Regions from separate parts of the Homo sapiens genome. Here regions 1 and 2 are each linked to region 3. The links come from fine-mapping of genetic effects on gene expression. A gene starts in region 3. Each other region holds a variant in brackets. All regions are shown on one strand. Distances are from middle to middle.

Evidence for each region. PIP is the estimated chance that this variant, and not a neighbour inherited with it, causes the effect. A credible set is the group of variants that fine-mapping cannot tell apart.
Region 1: its variant is the best candidate, but not a certain one, in a credible set for the expression of SLC6A6 in whole blood (INTERVAL, PIP 0.56).
Region 2: its variant is the best candidate, but not a certain one, in a credible set for the expression of SLC6A6 in whole blood (INTERVAL, PIP 0.83).

What each region holds. Positions count from the first base shown.
Region 1 is chr3:14,485,321-14,489,465 of GRCh38, forward strand. SLC6A6 (solute carrier family 6 member 6) reads left to right here. Exons shown (of 15, transcript NM_003043.6): 15 at 1-4,029. GRIP2 (glutamate receptor interacting protein 2) reads right to left here. Exons shown (of 24, transcript NM_001080423.4): 24 at 3,787-4,145. Among named protein-coding and RNA genes, the nearest start is that of GRIP2, 53 kb to the right of the region's middle. The variant G/T (reference allele first, on the strand shown) is at 1,956.
Region 2 is chr3:14,422,058-14,426,202 of GRCh38, forward strand. All of the region lies in intron 2 of SLC6A6 (solute carrier family 6 member 6), which reads left to right. Among named protein-coding and RNA genes, the nearest start is that of SLC6A6, 22 kb to the left of the region's middle. RefSeq lists enhancers at 1-144, 145-967. The variant C/G (reference allele first, on the strand shown) is at 2,519.
Region 3 is chr3:14,400,284-14,404,428 of GRCh38, forward strand. It overlaps SLC6A6 (solute carrier family 6 member 6), which reads left to right and starts at 2,323. Exons shown (of 15, transcript NM_003043.6): 1 at 2,323-2,564. It overlaps LOC105376959 (a long non-coding RNA gene), which reads right to left and starts at 2,124. Exons shown (of 8, transcript XR_007095825.1): 1 at 378-2,124. RefSeq lists enhancers at 1,747-1,796, 1,807-1,976, 3,297-3,356, 3,427-3,506 and a silencer at 2,117-2,646.

The DNA of each region.
Region 1 (4,145 bases), 85 kb after region 3:
TTTTTTTACATATAAGTATATATACACTTAGAGATTGTCATATACTTTTACCACTTGAATTGATCTTCTTGCCAGCAATAGATCTCATTTTCAAAAGCAATTCTTCGGTGCTGTGTAGCTGGCAGAAAGTTCTGTCCAGTAAACGCAGGATGGAATTTTCCTGGGACTCTACACCCATCTTAAGGTGGTATACCTTCCAAATCCTGGTTCAGATGGAAGAAATAGCAGGAGAGAGGACCCATTAGCTGGCAGACCCAGGGGGAAGAAAGGAGGGCTGTGAGGAGATACCTCATTAAACTTGGCTTAGTGAAGAAGAGAGATGCCAAAGGAATGAACCAACCCTTCACATAAAGGAGACTGGCTGAAGCTGAATGAGGAGGCCCTATAGCAGAAGTCTGATTCTAAGAGCAGTAGAAACTTGTACCAGAAGCAAAATCCCACTTTTAATTTTGAGATGGTGAGTGGATAGTCAGTAGACCGTCAGAACCACTGGCCAGAGAGGGAGCTGCTAGAGATCCAAGAAGGCTGGCAGGAGTGAGGCTCACAACTCAGCCTCGCAAGAGGTGGCAGAGGCACAGGAGGCCACAGTCCTTCCTGGGGCATTCCAGGCAGAGAAGGAGCAGAGGCTCTCCCGGCAGGAGCTGGGGTCTCAGGGCTCAGATGAGTCTGTTGCATTTGAATGGGGTCATAGCAGGTTCTGGTCATTCCCCAAGCAACATCTCAGCATCTCTTAAAGTTGCCTGCAGGAATGAAGCATGACATACCTGTTGAGGGACTAGGGGAGTGGTGGGGAGGTGAGTGGACCAAAGGATATAGGCCCCAGGCATGCAGATGGGCCCGGTGTCGGGGAGGGGTGCTTTCTTTCCTCATCTCCCCACTCCCCACTCTCAGCCTGGGAGACTCCTGCCAAGCCCTCATTAAAGATGCCACCCTGGGCTGCCCTGGCACCTAGCAAGGCACACCAAGAACAGCTTTTGAGTCTGTATCCTCCACTGGGGGAAGTGCTCCCAGTTCAGAACAAGGGCAGCCCGTGGTGCTGACCTAGGATATAACAAAGCTCTTCACTTCAAAACCCCTGCAATAGCTGGGTTTACAGACATTTACCACCTGCGGACCCAAAAGAGAAGGCCTAGGAGAGTTTTCTAGAAGGTTGGGATTGTCAGGGTCCTGGCCCCTCAGAACTGGCTTGATCAAGGGCCTTATGTGGAGCAGAGGTTGTCTCTGAACCAGGAGAGAAGGTACTATACCTTTCAAATCCCCAGGGCAGACACACCCCCACCCAGCCCCTATTTGGACCTAAACTGTGCCATTTGAACAGTCACTTCCAAGCTCAGTCTAAATGAAACCGAAACGTGACCACGCACAAAGGCAGTCACTGCCTCGAGGGGTGCAGACCGCAGAATTTTCACAGCAGGGGCTCTTGGAACCCTGGAAACCCCCTTCTTAAATTTGGGAGGAGGAGTATGCCTTTGGTGTCCCCCTCCCAAGGGGCAATTCTGAACCCCATCTTTGGCAGGCATACATATTTCACTGTTTCCAAAGCTATCTACTCTGCCAAACAACACCCAGTCCTATTCCAAACTCTCAACGATTCTATCTTGTTCCTGTTTTTCTATGTATTTATGGTTGCCGTTTGTGTCTGATTTGATTTTACTGTTTTTTCCCTGATTTTATGGAGTAGCATTGTGACCTGTTTTCCTTTGTCTTATATAACTTTAGTAAACTAACCACTGTCAATGATTGAGGGCAGGTGGCACGTGGGGAAGAGGGGACTTGGCACGCAGTGGCTACCTGGGCATTTGTGGTCATTTCAGTTTCCATCTCCCCAGCGGGGGCTCCCTGGGTGAAAGGCCACAGTATTTTGGGTTGGTAGGCAAATTGCAACATTCTGGACATGGCCTGAGGAAGGCCTCTTCTTATAAGATTCTCAGACCAAATTCTAGACCAAAGACACA[G/T]GCAGACCAAGTCCCCAGGCCCCGCCTGGAAGGAAGTCGTTCCTCAACTCTCCCCAAGGCACCTGTCTCCAATCAGAGCCCTCTCGCCCAGCCAGCCCTGGCTCTGTGTGCAGAGCATAGCTCTGCGAGTACCTGTGTAATAATGCTCAACCTTCATGTCTCCGTATAAACGAAACTTTCCATGAGAGCTCATGACTCTGGTCCACCTGTCTATAGAGAATGGGCAAAGTCCTTCACCTGCTTTCTGCTTGGGATGGGTCAGAAATGCTGATGCCCGCACATAGCCCAGCCAGCCAGATCTGGAAAGGAAGCGAGGGGGTTGTTTAAATCAATTTTTTAAGATGAAGAAGTGGGAGACACTGCGTTGAGATGGGCCATGCTAGGGCCACAGAGATTTCCTGACGGTCAGGGAGAGAAGGGCCTCCAGGGTCCCCTAACCCAACGCCCTTGTTGTAAATGAGGTAACTGAGGCTCAGGGAGGCACTGTGAGCCAGGAATGGATTTTCTTGAAACAGCTCTAGCTGCAGGTTCTCCGAGGTAGGTGCAGGGAATGGTGAGTGTCTAACCAGGGCTACATCCAGCAACATCCTCAAGGTCTTCCTGACAACCAAAGACAAGCCTTTATGGAAAAGGAAATGCGCTCCCCTCCATGTTCAGGGATGAGGGGAGCAGCAGCAGCCACACTCCCACCATCCTCACAGAATTCCTGGACCCATGCGGTGGCTCCGTGAGCTGGGTGACTCCAGCCTCACCTGCACACCCCAGCCCTGCACGGGGCCCTCCTTCCTCCCAGCAGCCCTTGGTGAGCTAGGAATTGAGATCCCTGTTTGTGAAAGAGGGAACTGAGGTGCAGAGAAGCCAGAGGTGTGCCAGATCCTTAGGCAGGATTTAGATGAAGTCGCCCTGGCTCCAGACTGACCCCGAGGCTCTGCGGGGAGTTTCCAGGCAGCAGGAAGTGGCCTTGGATGCTCTCCTTCCAGGACAGCATAACCCCTGGGCCATGTGCAGCTCCTTCACTGCCCCCTGGATCCCCAGCATACCCCCAAAGACAGTGGGGAAACACAAGGGGAGAGCACAGCATGGCCCCTCCAGCCCACTTCAGGGCACTCTTGTATCACCCGGGTACCGCCACACTGGTCCCCCACCCAGCCAGCATCTCCCAGCACAGCCCCTCTCCCTGGGGAAATGCTCTGGGTAGCCAGTCTAAAGGCAGAGGCACCTAACTGCTCCCCGCAGCCCACCCCACCCAAGATTCAGACACAAGCCAGGAAAGGACCCAAGAGAAAATCCTTCAAGGTGGCCTGAGGTCCCATCCCTCCCTCAGACCCATGTGGTCCCAGGCCAGGCTGCCTGGGACACGGTAAATACCACTGTGTGCAAAAATCGAAGTACAAAACCACAAGACTAAACAAAACAAACCCAGAGAGCCAAACTTGTAGAGGTGGGCAGTCCAGAAAGCAGGGGGCAGCCCTCCCCCTTTCCTTCTCTCCCTGATCCTCAGAATATATATTGTTGTAATAGGAAGCATTTTTGCATTGTTCTCTTGTGGGTGTCACTACAGACATGTTCTGGCGTGTTCTCCGAGGGATGGAGCATCCTGTTATATATTTGACTTCAAATTGAGATGTTGGCTTCATTTTTTTTTTTTACCCAATTAATCTCCCAATCCCTAGCAACTGTGACTCTGTATTTAGCACAAGAGAAAGCTGAGAATGTGGGTCTTGCCTCCTTCCAGAAATATGTCTGGCTCATCAGGACATTTTTTTAAAACTTCAAAATATTTTTAAGATATTTTAAACTTTTATAAAAAAAAAATCAACCAACAAGAGACTTTTCTGAGGAGGAACATTTGTATTTGAACAAGATCCTTGGTGTGTAGTTCAGTCTTGCAGTATACAAGCTTTTGTGTATAAATGTTTTATGATATGATTCCCTGTATTTTGCAGGGGTTTTTTTCTCTTTTGCTTTTTAGATAAATATGTATATCAATATTTTAAATTCATCTTTGCTTTTTTTAGAGGAGTTTGTAATCACCTTATAACATGAAAATAAACATTTCCTTTTTAACATCCAACATGTGTGGGTTGTGTTCTGGTGAGGTATTTCCCCCTCAACGTTTGCCAAACGCTTTACATTTTATAAAGGGCTTCCCGTCCAATCCCAGGACGCTCCTCAAAGGTAGGTATTTTC
Region 2 (4,145 bases), 22 kb after region 3:
AAGTCTGAGGGGAGTTCCTGGAAGGCATTTCCATCTGTCCATGTGTTCTAAGTCAGTGGACAATTAAGTCCAGAAACCTCCTGGACTTAAAAAGCAAGCACCGCCAGGATCCCTGGGGCTGCAGACAGCCTCGGGGGTTTTGGAGGGCTGGCTCCTCAGGCACCCATGAAGGAAGGTGTCCTGGGGTCAGTATTCAGACCCAAATGCCCGCAGGGACCCTCAGGGTGCCTTTATCTACTCATGTCTCCACACACTTGCTGGCAGAGCTGGGACAAGTCACTAACCCTCTGTGTGACCTCTGATTCGCCATGGAAAAAAGAGTGAATAGAATAAATCATTTATTCCCAGGGTAGGTTCTTGGGGTGGCAGTGCCGAGCTTGGGTGAGTCTCCACCCCTTCGATTTAGGAGCCGATGCCCTGGTGCGGATCTCTCCTCTGAGCTGAGCGTCCTCCACTAAGTCAGGCACAGAGCACGTGCAGCATAGGGCCGGTGTCCAGGCCCCACCCCAGCTTGGCCGCTTAGTGGCTCACCTTCTGGGGGCCTGCATGCAGGCCACCTTGGCTTCCTGTCATTGCTTCTCACCCCCACCCTCCTCCCAGCCAGAGGTAGAGTTGCATCCCTGCTCTTCAGCCTTTCAATTCCTAGCCCCAGCTTGGCTCCCACCTCCAAATCCCTACCCTCACTCCTCTTGCTCTGTGGGGTCCCACCTGGGCCATTGTGTTGCAAAGGACTCACGCCTCCTACCTCCTTTGCTACCTCTGTCACAAGGAGGGGGCTAGGTTCTCATTTATATTTTCTGGGTTGAGTTTTCCTGAGAGCTTCTGCTAGTCTCACAGCCCCTCAAGTCTCTTCTGGGCATCCTGCCAGTCCTGGACAAGGGTTCCCAGACAAGGGTCTGTCTCTTGTCCCTTAAGTTACTGGGGACCCAGAGAGACCAGATTCTGATGAGGAATCCAAGACTGGGTCCACATCAATGAGAAGGAAGCCAGGATTGATTAGCAGTGTCTGTCAAGGGGGCAAGGTGGGAAGAGGTGGCATGTGTGTTGTCCACATGACACCCTTAGTAATGGGCATTTGCTTTGGAAAAACTGTAGAGGAACCCAGAGGACTTCAAAAGGACTCTACAGCCAGCAGGCAAGAGGTGTCTTCTGGATAGGAAGAAGGGGACGAAGTGCCTCTGGAAGGACAGACAGTGTGTCCAGGGGAGGGAGCCCTGCTGTGCCAGGCCTTCTCATGCCTCGGTGTGATCTCACACCTGGGATGAGTGTGAGACACTCACACATGAATGTTGTGAGACAACATTCATTCACTTAGTAAATATTGAGCAACCACTATACACCAGGCACAGTGCAGTTGGTAAAGAGCCAGGAGGCTGGACCTTGTCTCAGGTGGGTAGAAGGAAGCTGTTTGTGACTGTGGGCTCATGAGCCTGTCTGCCTCCACCTTTTCATCCACTTTCCTCATAATAAGCCTCCTGAGGCTCAGAGAAGTACAGTGACCTGCTCAAGGTCACACAGCACCTTGAGACCTCAGGCCTCTGCTCCTCTCAGAACCACCTTCCTGTTTTGGTGCTGTCAAGAGAATAGTATTTGGTGCTACTTCTTTGGGCAAGTCCATCTTCTGCCTGGGCCTCAGTTGCCCCATCTGTAAAATGGGCCCTATGATAACTACTGGGTTAGCAAGTGCATGTAGGAGAAAGCATCTTGGTATTTTGAAAATACCAAATGTGTCTTATTAATTAATATTGGTCATAATTCAGGGGTGATTTATTCACATTTAACAATCCAGACATTCAGTGAAGTCTCTCACCCTAAAGGAGACAAAATCAGGGAGTGTGGCCTTCTGTGGGCCAAGCGATCCCTGTGTGGCCGAGTCTGGAAGTCTCATGGCTGGGTTCTGGACCTGCAGGATGATTCTGGGGAGAAGGGTCGTCCCAGCTTAAGGTCATGGAGTCAAGACCTTTTGTTTTCCTTTGGCCTTTCTAGTCCATTTGAGAAAGTCACCTTTTCAAACCCCTGCCAGCTCTGCCTAGTACTGGAAAGGCCCCAGCAAGAGTGTTTGACGTTAGGGGAAGTTTGGGGAAAAATCTCTAAGCATATAAACATTGAGAATTGAAAGTCTGATCAGTCATCCAAAAGTTATGGACTTTTGCTGTGGTTCAGGCCCCAGCTGGGGCTAGGGACCCTGAAATGAGCTGCCCTCTGTCCAGCCTGGGAGCTTGTGTGGGAAGATGCTACAAATCAGGACCCTGTCAGGGATGGGGAGGGCCTCTTGAAGGTGCTTTGGGCACGCAAAGTTAAAAAAAAAAAAAAGCTCCCTGAGGTCTTGAATATCAAAAATATGCCAGTTGGGCACCAGACAGTGAGGGCATTCCCAGTAGGGGAAACAGCCCGTGGAAAGGCCTGGTAGAGAGTGGAAGCCTGTAGAAGCCCTAAGGAGTGCAGCGTGGCTGGGGTGTCCTGCTCTGGGCAATGGGGAGGGGAGAGGAGCTGCCTGGGGTAGGGGGTGGGGTTGGGT[C/G]TGGCTCAGTGGCCTCGGATCTGTTCAGAGTGGTTGGTCTTGATTCACTCTGGGGAACCAGCCAGAAACAGGAATCCTTATTTCATGGTTCCAACTGCCCCTTAAAGGTAGTGCTTGTTGTTTTGACAACTGGCTCCTGAACAGACAAACCCTGCCTTCAACCAAACACCGCTGCAGGAGAATCACAGGCACGGCCACAAGTCTCCAGAGGAAACCCACTCTAACGAGGTGTCTAACCCAGTTTGCTGACTCACGTGGTTTTGGGAGCCCGTGAAGTGCATTGGGAGGGAGGGGACGGGGACACGGCGCTATTGAAGGAAGCTCGGTCGAAGCCGCCTGTTTGACACACAACACCGGCTGGAGAAACCGTTCAGCTGGTATTTTCCCAGTGTGGCAGATCTGGAGCCCAGGGGTGTTTGTTTCTGCCTCTCTCTGCACTTAGCTGGATGCTAAGAAGGGGCGGAGTCAAGGTCAAGTGTTGGTTGAACGAAGGCACGCCATGAAAGATGGCTAATCTTTCTTGGGCACAGAGTATCCTGTTTCTCCTGAGAGCAAATCCAATTGTGTATTCGAGGCACTTCCTTGTACCTTCCTTGTGTAATTCACGACGATGACCCATTTTACAGATGATGCAACTGAGCCCCCCAGGGGGAAGTGACATTCCTGAGGTCACCACTTGCAGCTGGGAAGGGGTGCAGTGTTAGGTTCCAACTAAAACATAGGTGATGCAGCATAGGCAAAGGGTGGAACTAGGCAAACCTTATTTGGGAAACAGAGTCCCGCAGGAGCTGCCTGCACTGGGAATACAGAGCCCAAGCAGCAGAGGCAGGGAGGGCCCCTCCTCTCCACACACATTGTCGGGAGGAATTATGTAGAACTCGGCCATCTGGGGGTCAGCAGGAACTGCTTGACCAAATAAATAGATGAGTCAATTAAAAAGGACGGATTTCTTGGCTATATATAGTTGTGGCCTAAATCTCAGGTATCCTTGCCCCCAAGGAGTAAAGGGAACCGTTTTCAGATGGCCCAGGCTGTACATGGGAGAATAAGCTGATTACACCCGGGGCTGCAGTGGGTGACACACTTTGCAGGAGTGAAAGGAAGCTCTAAGGAGGTGAGGGGTGGGTGGGGGACTCGGGGCAGGGAGGGTGGAAGGCAACAATTGCGTTTCCAAAAATGGTGTGGGTTGGGAGACTACCCATGGTCCTTCCCCTCATCAGTTTCATTGAGATTGGTCACACCCCTGGATATCAGCCACTTAATTTCTCTGGCCAGTCTGAATTTAAATGGCTAAACATTTCTTCCCTAGCCTGCGGGGTCAGTAGTTAGTAATCACGGCAGGTATGCATGACTCTCACCAATTATGAGTATAATTAAATGGGAAGATGCCTTGCAAGCATTGAGCACTGGGCCTCGCGCAGCCAGGGCTGTTAGCTGCTGCTCTTATGATTGAGGCCAGCTGCCACCCGGTCCGTGAAAATACTTTTGATCTGGGCTGATTCAAGAGACCTGGATTCTAATCCTTGAGTTAATTTGAAAAATAATTCCCCTGCCTCCTGCTGGTTTCAGTTTCCCCCTGTGTCAGGTTGAGGGGGAGAGACTTCCTGGTATCTAAGGTCACAGCCAG
Region 3 (4,145 bases):
GAGCGAAACTCCGTTTTAAAAGAAAAAAAAGAAAAGTACGTTAAAATAAATGCAGCAAACACTTATTGAGTACCTACTGTGTGTCAGGCCTATGATAGACTCCAGGAGTTGATGGAGGCAAAAGAACAGATCCCATCCCTCATGGAGCTGGTAACTGGATAGATGGTTCACTCGTGTGTCTTGCGCTGGCACTACCTGCATGAGGCTCCGCTGGCCTACCTGGAGGTCAAAGGATCCCATGGGCCTTTCCAAGTTGCAGCTCTGAACACACAACTCTTCCCTCCTCCCACAGCCACTGCCCTTGCTCACTCTCTCAGACCCTCAAGCTCAGCCCTGCCACCAACAACCTTGCTCTCAGGCCTTCGCACGGCAGGCACCTCTGCTAGAACTTGCTTCCTCTCCTGCCGGCTTCACTGCTCGTGGCTTAGTCAAAGCCTCCTTTTGGTTCAAACTTCAATCCTGGAGTCCCCTCCCCACGCTAGGACCTGCCCCTTTGCTTCAGTCTTTGTGCCCTGTGCGACCACACATGCACAGGGCGTCTGAGGAGTTTTTGCTTGACGTCTATTCCTGCAGTTCATGAGGGAACCTCATAGCTGAAGCAGAGGGATGTGGGAGACCCAGTCACTCCTCTTCCTCAGCTTTCGTTTGCTCACCTATAAAAGGGTACAGTGACCCTGAACTCAAAGGAGAGTGCTCAGGTGGCCAGAAGCAGATGTCACGTGGGCCACTGGGACCCTAGAGGCACTGCTGATCCCCAGGTGCTTCCTGGAGGAAGGGGCCACCCGGGGCCCGCAGAGAAGGGTGGGAAGGGTGACAGGAAGGCAAGGAAGGGCATGTGCCCAGTGGTCCTCGTCTGTCTTGGCTGGAGCCAGTATGAGGAGCACCCACTGGAAGGTCAGGTTGGAGTCCGATGGCAGGGGCCTCCAGGGAGAGCCAGTGTCACTTCGGGATGCTCCTTAGCATCCTGGGGCTGTACAGGGAGAGTGGCTGCAGAGCCCTTCCAGGCAGGGATCCTGGCCTGAGTGGGGGCAGCTCTTGGTCGGACCTGTGTGGTATTTCTTCTTCTTCTTCTTTTTTGTTTTTTTGAGACTCATTCTTGTCACCCAGGCTGGAGTGCAGTGGCGTGATCTCGGCTCACTGCAACCTCCGCCTCCCGGGTTCAAGGGATTCTCCTGCCTCAGCCTCCTGAGTAGCTGGGATTATAGGCACCCGGCACCACGCCAGGCTAATTTTTGTACTTTTAGTAGAGACGGAGTTTCGCCATGTTGGCCAGGCTGGTCTCGAACTCCTGACCTCAGGTGATCTGCCCCCTCGGCCTCCCAAAGTGCTGGGATTACAGGCATGAGCCACCGCGCCTGGCCGGTATTTCTTCTTTCATTCTCCGTGTAAATGGTGGAAGGATCGGCTCTCTCCTCCCCGCCTCCCAGGTGCAGAGAGAGAGAGAGAGAGAGAGGGACAGGAGAAGGCTGGGGTTCGGGGTTCTCACAGCGTTTCCCTCTCATGCTGCCAGGGCGGGGCAGTGGAAAATGGTCCCTGAGGGCCCGTTCATTCAAATAAGGACAAGAATAATGGCACACTCCCCATCTCCATTTAAAAATAGTCACATTAGCTGACACTGGCTTGGCACTTCCTAGATGCCGGGTGCGTTCCGAGTTCTCTACGCTGTTAACCTTGGATCTTCATAACAGCCGGAGGAGACAAGCGCTACTATTTTCCTTTCCATTTTATAGATGAGGACACTGAGGCAGAGAAATTGAGTCACTTGCCCAGGGTCACACAGCCATGGCAAGGCCAGGATTCTGGAGCTCTGTACCTGGCTTCACACCACAAGCTCAGGCCACCCTCCCGGGGCATACCGAGTCTCCCAGAACGTGGACGATCGCCCAGGGCAACGCAGTGGAGTGCGAGCCCGGTCTGGTTTGCACCTGGCTGCTCCAGGAGCCCTGGGCCTCATCCTAGGAGCCTGGCGGAAGAGGCGAGCGGTGGAGTTTGGAGGCTGCTGTGAAGGAAAGGACTAGGCGGGTCGGGTCGGGTCTGTCCTGCTCTTCTTCCGCAGGCAGGAGGCGCCCAGGGCGGGCTGCCGCACCTGGCAACGAACGTTCGCCGCGCGGCATGAGGGTGTGCGCGCGCGCTCGGCGAGCCCGGGTTCTTTGTGTGTCCGAGCCCATGCGCGCGTGCGTGTTTGCGTGTATGTGTGTGCATGTGTATGTGTGCGCGCGTGTGTCCGCACTTGGGGCGGGGCTGGAAGCCCCGGCCCCGCCCCGGCCCCGCCCCCGGCCCGGCCGAGCTGGTATTTTTCCACCCAGCAGGATGGGTGATGCTGAGAGCTGCCTGCTCAGACAACAGACACGCGAGGTCAGGAAGAAGCCGCTTATAAATTACCGCTTCCTTCGCGCCGCCGCCAACGCCGAGCCCCGAGGACCGCAAGCCCAGAGGACAAGCTGCGCCAAGAGGGAGTGCGGAGCGTTCACCCAGCGGGTCAGAGAGCGAGCGGGCAGGCAGCCCCCGGCCGGCGGAACCCGGCACAGCCGAGCAGAGCGCGGGCGGCGCCGCAGCCACCCCAGGTACCGGAGGGACCGGGAGCTGGGCGCGCAGCCGGCGCTGCCCGCCGTCTGCAGCCCCTCCCCATCCCCGCGTCGCCGCAGTCCCGGCCTCCTCCCCTCCGCGTGCGCCCATCCGGCGCCCCTTTCACCACCGCGGAAGGGACCGAGAGTCGCCTGCTCAGTCCCGCTGGCGGGGCTGTTATTGTTTCCCCGGCAAAAGGGCTCCGGCTCTTGGTGCGGGCGGCAGGAGAGTGTGTGTGTGTGTGTGTGTGTGTGTGTGTGTGTGTGTGTGTGTGTGGCATATCTGTGTGCCTGTCTCCGTCAGGATGCCTACATGTGCCTCCGTATCCCTGTGTCTGTGTTTCTGAGGGTGACTGTTTCACCGTGTCCCCAGCAGCGTGCACATGTGTGTTCCGGTGCATGTCTGTTATTCTCTGCGTGCTGGGCTGTGTGTGTGTGCCTCTCTGTGTGTGATACCTGAGTGTGCTGTCTTTGGATGTGTGCTCTTGTGTGTCCCCGTTTGTGTCTGCATGAATCTGTGTGTGGGGGGCTGCGTCTTCCAGGCCCTGGCTAGGTGCACGTGCGTGTCCCTGAGTGTGGTTGTGTCTCCAGGTCCCTGGTTGTGGGCACTCGTGTGTCCTCGGCTGTACCCAAGAGGGTGTCCCTGGTGCCTAGAGGGTCCAATGGCCAGAGCTGGTTCTCCAGGGCCGGCGCTGAGTGGGGAGAGGTGATAGGGCAGCGTGGCTCCATAGGTGCATGCACTCCATAGGTGGTGTGCAGGTGGCAGCGCCAGCGTCCAGCAGTCCTGAGTGGTGGGACCAAGGCCCGGAGGGGCAGCCAAGGGGTAGTGGACAGCCGGCAGGGCCAGCAGGACACTTCCCCCTCCAGACTATTTCTCTTCCTTCTGTGGGTTCCTCTTTTGAGTAGGAGATTCTCGTCCCCCTCCCACTAGGGAAGCCACACAGAGAGAATTCCAGGGACCTCCTCCTACAGCCTCAAAGCTTCAGCCTGGACTTCAGCCTGGACTGGAGAGGAGACCTGTGGGCAGCTCTCCCAGGCAGGGAGGTGTGTGCCGGGTAGGGCCACCGGCCTGGCTATTTTGGTCACTGTTGGGCCTCTGCCAGATCCCGGCATCCCCAGGACCAGCCCCAAAAGCTTGGGAGGCAGCCTGGGCCCCCGTTTCCTGTCTGGGGAAATAAATCAGCTCAGTAATTGCCCAGACACTTGAATGGAGGGTCTTCGGGCTGAGGTTTACTGGCGCATGGCTCCATTTGGACTTCACTAAATTGGCCCCCGCTTTGGCACAGCTGACGTTCAAGTAAATGTCACTGAGGAGATCTTTTTAAAATTTCTTTTTAATTTTTTGTTGGCTAGAAGGGAGGGGATCTTGTCCAGAGTCTCCTAGCCAGAAGGAGTTTATTTTTATGAGAGAGAGAGCGGGTGAGTGCTTAGCAACCACCTGCCTCCCTCTCGACCAGGGAGTCACCCAGGGATTGTGGGGTGGGCATGAGGAGGTGGGGTGGGGGAGGAATTTCATCAAGATGGTGTTGGAGAGGATCCAAAGGGGGCCTAGCACGGCTAAGAACCCCCAACAGGGTGGGA